Linked DNA regions of Homo sapiens: region 1 is linked to region 2. Evidence: fine-mapped QTL for protein levels in blood plasma. Region 2 holds a variant in brackets. A gene starts in the other region. All regions are shown on one strand. Distances are from middle to middle. Region 1 holds the start of VEGFB (vascular endothelial growth factor B). Region 2 overlaps NUCB2 (nucleobindin 2).

Evidence for each region. A credible set is the group of variants that fine-mapping cannot tell apart. PIP is the posterior inclusion probability: the model's chance that the variant is causal. The UK Biobank Pharma Proteomics Project read protein levels with antibody pairs (Olink). The fine-mapping took linkage between variants from a reference panel, not from the people measured, so its PIPs are less certain.
Region 1: it holds the start of VEGFB, and the variant in region 2 is the best candidate, but not a certain one, in a credible set for the plasma level of the VEGFB protein (UK Biobank, PIP 0.81).

The regions. Positions count from the first base shown.
Region 1 is chr11:64,233,502-64,236,968 of GRCh38, reverse strand. VEGFB (vascular endothelial growth factor B) reads right to left here and starts at 2,385. Exons shown (of 7, transcript NM_003377.5): 1 at 2,076-2,385; 2 at 1,469-1,511; 3 at 960-1,156; 4 at 642-715. The coding sequence starts at 2,135. It overlaps DNAJC4 (DnaJ heat shock protein family (Hsp40) member C4), which reads right to left. Exons shown (of 6, transcript NM_005528.4): 5 at 2,989-3,075; 6 at 2,688-2,896. The coding sequence ends at 2,785. RefSeq lists silencers at 1,758-2,127, 2,348-2,837.
Region 2 is chr11:17,326,778-17,335,295 of GRCh38, reverse strand. NUCB2 (nucleobindin 2) reads right to left here. Exons shown (of 14, transcript NM_005013.4): 12 at 4,999-5,169; 13 at 4,313-4,394; 14 at 3,085-3,884. The coding sequence ends at 3,877. Among named protein-coding and RNA genes, the nearest start is that of NCR3LG1, 21 kb to the left of the region's middle. The variant G/C (reference allele first, on the strand shown) is at 5,160.

The DNA.
Region 1 (3,467 bases), 47 Mb before region 2:
TGGGATTACAGGCACCTGCCACCATGCGCGGCTAATTTTTGTATTTTTTTTTAGTAGAGATGGGGTTTCACCATGTTGGCCAGGCTGGTCTCAAACGCCTTACCTCAGGTGATCTGCCTGCCTGGGCCTCCCAAAGTGCTGGGATTATAGGTGTGAGCCACTACCCCCGGCCCAAGCATCCTACTTTGTTGCCCCAGATCCAAGGCCTACCCTTGGCTCTACTCTTTTTTTTTTTTTTTTTTTTTTTTTTTTGTGGCAGAGTCTTGCTCTGTCGCCCAGGCTGGAATGCAGTGGCACGATCTTGGCTCACTGCAAGCTACGCCTCCCAGGTTCATGCCATTCTCCTGCCTCAGCCTCCGGAGTAGCTGGGACTACAGGTGCCCGCCACCACGCCCGGCTAATTTTTTGTATTTTTTTAGTAGAGACAGGTTTTTACCATGTTAGCCAGGATGGTCTCGATCTCCTGACCTCATGATCCGCCCGCCTCGGCCTCCCAAAGTGCTGGGATTACAGGCGTGAGCTACCACGCCCGGCCCCTTGGTTCTACTCTTAGGAACCTGGTCCCCAGTTCTGTGGACCACCATACCCAGCACCCCCCAAGCCTGGCCTCTGCGAGCTCAGAAGTTGGGCCTGGCTGGCACCTGCATTCACACTGGCTGTGTTCTTCCAGGGACATCTCCCCCAGCTGACTGCTCGGGTACCGGATCATGAGGATCTGTGCTCAGGAGAAGAACAGGGGGGACAGTGAGGGAGAGAGAGAAAGGGGATGCTCTAAGACTGAAGGGAGAAAAGCTCACCCAACAGCCGGGAGGCTGGCCACCAGCCCTCCCCCCAACCCTGTCTCCTGTGCATCAGTCTCCAGGCTGCCCCAGCCCCAGAGCCAGCCAGCATCCACCCTGCCCGCTGCCCCACCTGCCCAGTACCTGCATCCCCTGCCCGTTGCCCCACCTGCCCAGTACCTGCATCCGGACTTGGTGCTGCCCAGTGGGCACACACTCCAGGCCATCGTCAGGGCAGCAGCCACCACAGCGCTGCACAGTCACGCAGCTGGGCACCAGCTGTTTGGCCACGGTGCCCATGAGCTCCACAGTCAAGGGCACCACCACCTCCCGGGGCTGGCAGGTAGCGCGAGTATACACATCTATCCATGACACCACTGGGAGCAGACCGGTAGGGGTTAAGTCCTCACTGGTTTTCCTGCAGCTGCTCCCAGCATCTGTCCTCCCCAGTCCCCAAGTCACAGCCACCCTCCACTAGCCCTCCCCACTCTGCCCTCACAACCTGTCTTCCCCTGCCCTGTTTATCCAGATCCCAGTAACCCCACTGCCTCAATTTCCTCCTCTGTGAAATGGGTAGAATAATAGTTTGAATCTTCTAGGGGAGTTACACAAGATGATGGACACCTGGAATCAGGGCCCATGACAAACCCTCTTAGTGCTGGCTAGTGCCGAGTTTTTGTAAGTATTACCTTTCCTCTGGTGGCCAGGGGCATCAGGCTGGGAGACAGGGGCCTGTGGGAGAGAAAAGACCTGTACCCAAGGTACACTTTAGGAGGGTGTGGCCCTGTCACCGTCCCTGGGGCTTTGCCCTTGCATCAGTAGGCTTCACCACCTCTCTGACATCTTTCCAGATTGCTCTGTTCCTGCGGCCACTGCTCTAGCTTTACCTGTCCTCTCCTGGCCACCCGGGACCTGCCCTGGCCCAAAACGCAACAGGTGCTCTGGTGGCCGCGCCAAATCTCCAGGCCGCGGAGCCGAGCATGTTTGGGGGCTGCATGCAGATCAGGAGCGCGCACAGTGCCCACCGAAGCAGGTCCTGCAGGCACCGAGGGAGCCCCGCCCCCGGCGGTGCCCAGGGGACGGGGTGGGGCGGAGGAGTGGCCCCAGACTGGGGCTGGCGGGCCAGCGGGGAGGGGCACCTCCCAGGGGATGCACGCGCCGGGCCCCCGAGACGCCCGCGTCCAAGGCCGGACCCCGCAGATCCCCTCGGCCGAGGCCGCGGGTCGCCTCCTCACTTCCGCCAACCTTGAGAGAGGGCACGGCGGGCGGGCGGGCGCGCTGTCGGGCCGCACGTACCTGGGCGGGGGCCAGCTGCAGGAGTGCGGCGAGCAGCAGGCGGCGGAGCAGAGGGCTCATGGTGCCCGCCGGGGCCGCCCGCCGGGGGCGCCCGCATCGCCCTAGCCCGGCGGCGCGGGGGGCGGCGACAGCCAGAGCCCCATGGCGCGGGCCCGGGCGCGGCGGGCGGGGGCCGGGCGCGGGGGGCGACTCCTCCGCGGCCCCCTCCCGAGCCCTGGGTGCAGGCAGCGCAGCGCAGCGCAGCGGAGGCGGCCGGAGGAGCCGGGCGGGCGGGCGGCCGGTGGCGGCGGGCAGCGGCGGCGGGGACGGCGGGGGCGGCGGGGGGCTGGGCCCGGGCTGGCGGGCAGGCGGCTCATGTGACCCAGACACGCGCTCCCCACCGGCCCGTGGGGCGGGGGCGGGGCGGCGGGGTGGGGGGGCGAGGCCGTCGGCGGGGCCCGCCTCCTCCACACACCCCCTCCCGCCTCCCGCCGCGGCAGGGGAAAGGGGACGCACCGCCCAGGAGGCTGGGCTCCCCAGTCGCCGCCGCCACTACCCGGAGGGCGGGGCGCTGCCCCTTGGCGAGGCCGGGGCCGGGGGCGTCGGGCCTTAAGGAGGGAGCCGGACACGAGCTCTGCGAATCACTTTATTGCGCGCGTTTCGGGGAGCGGGCCGTCCAGGGAAGGAAGCAAAGCGGGAACGCACTGCAGGCCCCATCCAGGTGAGCCCCTCAGGGGCCGGCGCCCCGGGGCACGATCTCGGGGCCTTGGGTTGGCTCGGATGGTGGCGGCTGCCGCTGCCCTAGCCGTTGTCGCTCCTGCTGAAGGATGCCTCTGTTGGCCCTGGAGGAGAGGGCACCTGGGTGGTTGGGATAGGGATCCCGAAGTGTGGTTCCTGGACAGGGAGCAGGGAGCAGAATAGAGCAGGGACAGACCTGGCCCGTGCCCGGGCTTCGTTGTAGAAGGCTGTGATGATCCGATCCTTTTCATCCATGAAGTTAAGGTGCATCTGCTTCACCTTCCTGCAATGGGTCACAATTAACCCTGGGAATCCAATTCCTGCTGTCCCTGAAGTCCTGCCCCCTTCCACCCCACTCTAGGGGCCTCACAGCTTTTTACCCTTACACAGGGTTAGGAACCTCAGTCTAACCCTTCCTGTGATAGATAGGGAGGGCTCAGAGTGGCCCTGGCTTGTCTAGGGTCCAATGGCATCCGAAGTCCCTGGTCACTTTGAGGTGTGACAGCAGCTGTGGACATGGGGGTGCTCCTCCCAGAAGACTAGAAAGGGTATGCGTCTAACTCCATCACTGAACTAGGCAGGCTGCTAGCAGTGGGCACTGGCCTTTAGGTATCTGCTATAGAAAATCGGCTTTGTGGCCAGGCGCGGTAGCTCTCACCTGTAATCCCAGTACTT
Region 2 (8,518 bases):
CAGTTTACCATCTAAAAACGTTTACCCAAAAGAATGTCTTATCAGTTTCATGTCACAGATAGTAGTCATCAACAAAAGGATATTCCAAACCATTTTTCCATATTGCTTATAATTTAAGCAATAGAGATATTCTATTGCTTATAATTTAAGCAATAGAGATTCTATTCCATTTCTTAAAAAAAATAGCAAGCACTATTACTACATTGAGTGGTTTTTGTAGGGTTTTTAAAGCTGTATATAACTTTTCTAAACTGCTATATTTAATTTTGGGATCCATTATTTAAGTATGTTTGGAGGAATATGCAATGATCATCTAAAAATTTATAAAATAAGGACTAACAGTTTAAAAATTATTAAGTGAAACAATGTAAACTTGTGAGGTGCTAGGGTAGCCTTTTTTTTTTTTTTTTGAGATAGAGCCTTGCTCTGTGGCTCAGGCTGGATTGCAGTGGCATGATTTCAGCTCACTGCAACCTCCACCTCCCAGGCTCAAGCAATTCTCCTGCCCCAGCCTCTTGAGTAGCTGGGACTATAGGTGTGCACCATCACACCCAGCTAATTTTTGTATTTTTAGTAGAGATGGGGTTTCACCATGTTGGCCAGGCTGGTCTGGAACTCCTAACCTCAGGTGATCCACTCACCTTGGCTTCCCAAAGTGCTGGGATTATAGGCGTGAGCCACCATGCCCGGCCTAGGGTAGCTTTTAACATGCATTCCTGTCACACAGAGGTAGGAAAGTTGAACATTATATTTCCCAACCTCCTTTGCAGCTAGGGTTTCAGATATGATTGGTCCAGTCCATCAGATTCACTCACTTGAGACTTTTACTCAGAGCCAAGTAACGTGGGGACAGAGGCAGGAAGAGATGTATCTATTTTTGCTGGCATAAAGCATGGCAGAGGTGGTGTGGCTCTGGAACTGGCAACTGTTCAGCAGGCAGCTTCCTAATCCAGCAGGCAGCTTCTTGATTGTTCTAAAAGCAGCAGCTCTTTCAGCAGCCTACTCTTGTGACATAATTCCTAGAAGCTCAGCCTAGATCTGTTTCTTCAACCCTCCCATTGATTCTGTGACCTATATATACTCATTCATCAATTCCCTTCTGTTTAATAGCTAAAGAAGATTTCATTGCTTACAGCCAAGAATCTTGACCTATACAGAATTTGGCAGCTAGAAGTAAAGCACAGCAAGTCGAAGGCCCTAAATCTGGGGTTGGCTTAGTTGAGGAGGTAGGGCTTTGGGCAGTGAGACTTCTTGCCAACAGAAGTCAAGGTGAGGTTGAGACTTCCTGCCACAGAGACGAAGGTGGTAGAACTTCAGAGTGCTAGCATGTGTTGGCTGCTTCTTGCCTCTTTTCAGCAAAGCCCTACAAGAGATATGTGACTTGGACTAAGATTAACAAGTCTGCAGTGACGCAAGGGAAAAATAGCTTTGCTGAGAGAATTGCTCTTTGTCTACCATATAAATTGACCAAGTCCCAAATCTGGAGCCCTGAAGAATTGAAAACTGTACTCCAAACTGAAACATTTATAAGTAAAGGCTCTGAGGGAGCTACTAAAACTTTCTCAACCTTTTTTAAGAACCTTCCCTTAAGAATTTTCTGCCAAATAATAGGAGCCATCCTAGGGGAAGAGATCAGATTAAGACTGTTGCCATTCCATGCAAGCCTACAGTCTCAAAGGATCTCAAGGAGGTACCATTCCTGTAAGAACAAAGGGGATGGAGAGCACACAGAGGCCAGCAAGTAAATGATGAGGTTCTTTGTTAAAAACAATGTATTTTACCTTGGTTAATACTGTCCATGTAAATGACTGAAGACAACAGACCAGAAACTTACTAAAGTTTTAGGAATCCACTTGGCCAAGAAACAGAACAAAACAACAACAAAAACCCAAACCTGGCCTGCAATAGACTGTAGCTGTTACGGATCTATACTCTAATTCCCAAGCCTGCCCCCAGACTCACAATTATAGGAAGTAAACTGCTAAGGCTGCCCAGCCTCCAAGAAGGGTATACTTTCCAATGCCCATTCAGATTGTGTCTGAAAATTAATGTACAATAAAAACCTCCAAGAAAGTAAAACCAAGGCCCCCTGAGGACATTAGGTAAAGGAATTCCTCTCAGAAAGGTGAATCAGGGGTTGCCTGATAGGCAAACCAAGGAATATATTCATGAACTATAGCAGAGAGATTTAATTATTTTTGCCAAGTGGTACTTTCAAATTGCTATGGATCAGTGGCCACTATATTTCTATTTCTCCCTTTTTCTAAAAGGTCAATTTTAGGGATCTTGGGCATGGTGGCTCACACCAGTGATCCCAGTGCTTTGGGAGGCTGAGGTGAGAAGATTGCTTGAGACCAGGAGTTTAAGACCAGCCTGAGCAACATAGCAATACTCCATCTCTACAAAAAAAAATGTTTAGCCAGGCGTTCGTGGCATGTGCCTGTAGTCCTAGCTACTAGGGGGACTGAGGTGGAAGGATCACTTGAGCCCAGAAGTTCAAGGCTGCAGTAAGCTATGATCACACCACTGTACTCTAGACTGGACAACAGAGTAAGACCCTGTCTCTAAAAAATTTAAAAGGTCAGTTTTCCTGCACCTTTGCATTATGCATCTGGTGCTCTCAGGGCAGAAAACTTGTCTTTCAGTTTGTAGGTGGCCAGAACACAAGGAGCCACACCCTAACATGATGGAGGGGACTGTCTCCAGATAGCATGGTCTTTCATCTAGTATGCAATAATGGGCTGGATTTCTGGTGGTTTCTCTTCAGGGAGAGAGGGGTGAGTGTTTTCTCTCTCGGAAGAAGAAGGTACACAGAATTTAGGTAGCCAACAAGGCTGGCTGAGTTTAAAATCCAAAGTTGCCTACCAAACATTCCCTCTTCCCTTCTTCCTTAGTAAAAGAATCCAACTTTTAGCTGGTCACATTGCCACATTGACTTCTCAGCCTCCCTAGCAGCTAGGTGTGGCCATCAGTGTGACCCAGTTCTGGTCGAAACATAAGTTCAGGTGCTGCTGGTTCTGGAAAATGGCCTCAGGGAAGCTAACTCAAGCAGAGAAAGTCCAGTTTTCTTGCCTTCCCCACTGCCTCCAGGAGCAAACTTGAACAGTGAGAGTGAGGTAATCTGAGGATAAAAATCATGCACTGAGGATAGCAGAGCAGAAAGATAGGAACCTGGACACCACCTACTTCTAGACTTATGTAAGAAGAAAAACTCCTATTTAGTTTAAACCACTGTTATCTTTGTTTTTTCTGTTATATGTAACATAACCTAATCTTAAATGATAAAGTATAGAGCAAAATAAAAAAGAATGAAAAATGACCTGAAGTGGTAGCAAAAGTGATTCAGGTGAAGAATTTCTAGCAGTTGAGGTTGCCAAAACTAGAAAAACGTTACCAGGAAACACAGGGAAATACTGTGGCCTTTCCAGAATTGTTAATATCAAACAGACATTTATTGAAAGAAGGAATGATAAGCACCCATAAAAGAATACCTATGTTTACGAGTAAGTGAGAGCAATCTAATTTAAAAGCAAGAGGCAGAGTTTTCTCACTTAAATAGTTCCTAATAGTTTCACTAAATTATGGCATAAAGCCACTTAATTAAATCATTAAAGGAGAACAAAAAAATAAATAAAAGAGCCGTGTGAATGTGAGAGCAGAGAGCAGACAGTGAGTTTGTTTTCTTCCTGGTTCTGATAAACTTCAATCCTTTAATATCTGTGTCCCAAAAAAAGTGTTTTCATTTAAAAAGTATCTCCCTTTATTTCAAATATGCTTTTAAAATATTTATTGAGCAGAGAAAAAGGAAGGGAGCTAAAAAGATGAAATAGATGTTGAGTTAACAGCTTTCTTCCAAGTTCTGGTGGACTTCAGACTTTAAATGTCTGTTGGAAAAAAGAAAAAAGTTCTTATTTTAAAAGTATCTTCCTTTATTCTAAATGTTCCTTCATATACAAATATACTTGTTTTAAAAAATATGCTTAGCTAATCATAGATCACAATTTTAAAAAACATATTCTCTGGTAAGATTAATATAATTAGAAAGAATTACAAATAAAGTTGAAATAAATCATTTTACCATAAATATGGTTATCAAATTATACAAATGATACAGCACTTAAAATTTGCTGCTACATAAAACTTTTGGAGGCATTTTCATTTTTCTATAATCTAAATTGCTCTAATACCACAAAAAATACACAAAAAATAACATAACATCTTAATGATTTGAAATTATATTTGTAATAAATGTGGATTTCAATTGATAAAATAATTTATTTTCCTAAATAAATAATCAAACAAAATTACACACGTGGCTCAAACTTCAATTCTCCAGCTGGCCCTGATGGAGGAATTCCTTGTTGTAATTTTTTTTGTTCCATCTGCTGTATGACCTGGTGAATGGAAAATGAAAGTTAAAAGTATAACTTGATTTTCTATCATATGTGTGACCTTTGACAAAGCACAACAAAGTAAATGAAAATTGTTTTCTAAAACAAAGATATTCAAACTATAAGATTTAGATTTGACTAGGTGCAGTGGCTCACGCCTATAGTCCCAACAATTTCAGAGGCCCAGGTGGGAAGATCACTTAAGGCCAGGAGTTCGAGACCAGCCTCGGCAACACAATGAGACCTGGTCTCTACAAAAAATATTAACATTAGCCAGGAACACTGGCATGCACCTGTAGTCCTAGCTACTGGGGAGGCTGAGGTGGGAGGATCACTTGAGCCCAGGAGTTTGAGGCTGCAGTGAGCTATGATCACAGCACTATACTCCAGCCTGGGAGACAGGCTGTCTCAAAATAAAATAAAATGAAATAAAATAAAATTTAGATTAATATTCCACAAAACAGTTTTAAAGTATTAAAATTTAAAATACTATAGTATAGCTATAGCAGTGTACTATATAGTACAATGAAATATGTTACAAAAACACAGGCTTTTAACAAAGCACCTAAAATCTTTTTAATGCCATAATCTTTTGACAAAATGCCACCTGATGATATTCCAGCTTCTGAGCCTCCAGTTGATCATGCTGACGTTGTAGCTCTTCTTTTTGTTTCTGAAGCTCATCTGCCTTCTTCTTAAGTTCATTTTCTTGTAAAGCAATAATATTTTCATATTCTTTTAGTTCTTCCTCTGTGAAGAACTGTTGCT[G/C]ATCTAATGTCTAAAAGAAAAAAAATGAGGAAAGAATAATCTCAAAACTACAACAATAAAGTCTGATTTAGCTTTAAAATTCTATGGTTAGCAAAGTATAAAAGAGTATCTATAGGATTACGCCTTTGGAGGTAAGAAGGAAGGGGAAATAAGTAATATATATTTATGTACTCATTTGAACAAAAGGAAAAACAGGAAGAAAAACTCAAGAGATTCTCTTCTGGGATTGACAACTAAAGGCAAAGAGTGAGAACTGGGTAGAAGAGGCAAAGAGAACGTGGGAAGAGAAATAAAATTTGTCATTCCCCCCAACCCTCACTGAAACATGAAATTTTAACAGCTGTCTGCACACAGAAAAGCACAAGAAGCAAACATCAGGTGAGCACTCACAGTACCTGGTTTCAACTTCATATCACCTGCAAAGACACTGAGAAGGGCAAAAGAGACAGTCTTGAATCACCTATGCCACCTCTCTCCCATTCCCTCGTGGCAGACCTGCAGCACAGAGAGTCTGTGCCCTCTGGGGAGGGAGCATAGCGACTGGGGGACTTTACATTGAACTCAGTGCTGCCCTGTCACAGCAGAGAATAAAGCTGTGCTGGGCTCCACCACTGCCCATGCATAGGAGCATTTGAAGCAGCCCTAGCCAGAGGAGAATCACCCATCCCAGCAATGGGCACTGAATTTCCTGGCAGGCCTCACCATGCGGGCTGAAGTGCTCTGGGGTCCTAGGTAAACTTGAAAGGCAGTCTAGGAAAGGAGGACTGTAATTCCTAGGCAACTCCTAGTGCTAGGCTGGGCTTAGAGCCAGTGAACTAGGGTAGCAGGTGACCAGGGGAGATACCAGCTGGTGAGGCTAAGGGAACGCTTGTGCTACCCCTCCCCCAACCTCAGGCAGTGCAGCTTGTGGCTATGAAAGTGACTCCTTTCTTGAGGAAAGGAGAGGAAAAAGTAAAGAGGGCTTTGTTTTGCATCTTGGATACCAGCTAAGCCATAGTAGGATAGGACACCAGGCAGAGTTGTGAGGACCTGATTCCAGGCCCTAGCTCCCAGGTGACATTTCTAGACATACCCTGCTGGCCCAAAAGGAAACTGCTGCCTTAAGGGAGCAGTCCTGGCAGGCTTCATCACTTGCTAAGTAAAGAGCCCCTGGGCCCTGAATAATCAGCGGCAAGACCCATGGAGTATGCTGTGGGTCTTGGACTGAGACATGCTGGCTTCGGGGTGACCCAGCACATTCCCAGCTGTAGTGGCTATGGCGAGAGACCCCTGTTTGAGGAAAGCAGAGGGAAAGTAAAGGCGATTTTTGTCTTGCACCCTAGGTACCAGCTCAGCCACAATGGGGTAGACCAACAAGCAGTCTTTTGGAGTCCCTGAGTCCAGGCCTTGGCTCTTGGACAGCATTTCTGGACTCGCCTTGGGCCAGAGGGGAGCCCACTTCCCTGAAGGGTAAAGGCCTGGCAGCATTTACCGCAAGGTGACAGAAAAGCCCTTGGGCTTTCAGTAAATATCAGCAGTGGCTGGCAGAACCCCATGTGGACCAGAGATGGTGGTAGTAATGGCCACAGGGAGAGGGTCCTCTGCCTGTGGAAAGAGGAGTGAAGAGCAGGAAGGCTTTTGTATTGTGATTTGAGTGTCAGCTTAGCCACAGTAAAACTGAACATCAGGTAAATTGCTAGGGTTTTTTACTCCATTCCCTGGCTTCTAGACACCATCTCTGGACACACCCAGGATCTGGGGGAACTCGCCACCATGAAGGAAAGGGCCTTGGGCAAGGCCCAGTGCCATGTTGGCTTCAGGCTTGACCCAGCACAGTTCCGTGGTGATGGCCATAAAGGTACTTGCATCACCACACCTCCAGTTCCAGGTGGCTCAGCACAGAGAGAGAGACCATTTGTTTGGAAGAAAGTAAGGGAAAAGAACAAGAGTCTCTGCCTGGTAATCTAGAGAATTCTTCTGGATCTTATCCAAGACCACCAAGGTGGTACTTTTAAGAGTCTGCAAAAATCACAGAATTACTGGACTTTGGGCCCAAGTCCCGTGGAATACCTGGAAAGCTTTCCAAAGAAGGACATGCACAAACAAACCCAGAGTGTGAAGATTACAGTAAGTATCTAACTCTTCAATGCTCTGATACCAACAAACATCTACACACATCACCACCACCCAAGAAAACATGACCTAACCAAATGAATTAAATAAGGCACCAGGTTCCAATCCTGGAGAACCAGAGATATATGACCTTTCAGATACAGAATTCAAAATAGCTGTGTTGAGGAAACTCAAAGAAATTCAAGGTAACACAGAGAAGGAATTCAGAATTCCATCAGATAAATTTAACAAAGAGATCAAAATAATTAGAAAGAATCAAGCAGAAATTCTAGAGTTAAAAAAATGGAACGGACACGCTGAAGAATGCATCGGAGTCTCTTAATAGCAGAACTGATCAAGTATAAGAAAGAATTACTGAGCTTGAAGACAGGCTATTTGAAAATACAGAGGACACAAAGGAGAGAGAATGAAAAACAATGAAAGCATGCTTACAAGATCTAGAAAACAGCCTCAAAACGGCAAATATAGGAGTTTTATTGGCCTTAAAGAGGAGGCAGAGAAAGAGATAAGGGTAGAAAGTTTATTCAAAGGAATAATATCAAAAATATTTCAACATTCAAGTGCAAAAAGGTTATAGAACACCAAGCAGATTTAACTCACGTCAGACTACCTCATGGCATTTAATAATCAAACTACCAAAGGTCAAGTACAAAGAAAGGATCCTGGCGAGGCGTAGTGGCTCACACCTGTAATCTCAGCACTTTGGGAGGCAGAGGTGGGCAGATCACTTGAGACCAGGATTTCAAGACCAGCCTGGCCAACGTGGAAAAACCTCATCTCACCTAAAAATATAAAAATCAGCCAGATGTGATGGCACACACCTGTAATCCCAGCTGCTCGGGAGCCTAAACCACAAGAATCACTTGAACCTGAGAAGCAGAAGTTGCAGTGAGCCAAGATCACGCCACTGCACTCCAGTCTGGGTAACAGAGCAAGACTCTGTCTCAGGTGGCAGATTTTTCAGTGGAAATCTTATAGGCCAAGAGAGACTGATATGAAATATTTGCAGTACTGACAGGAAAAAAAATTTTTTACCCTGGAATAGTATATTCACTGAAAATATCCTTTAAGCATGAAGGAGAAATAAAGACCTTCTCAGATAAACAAAAACTGAGGGATTGCATCAACACCAGACTTGTCCTATAAGAAATGTGAAAGGTAGTTCTTCAATCTGAAATAAAAGGATGTTAATGAGAACAAAGAAATCATCTGAAGGTACAAAAGTCACTGTTAACAGTAAGCACCCA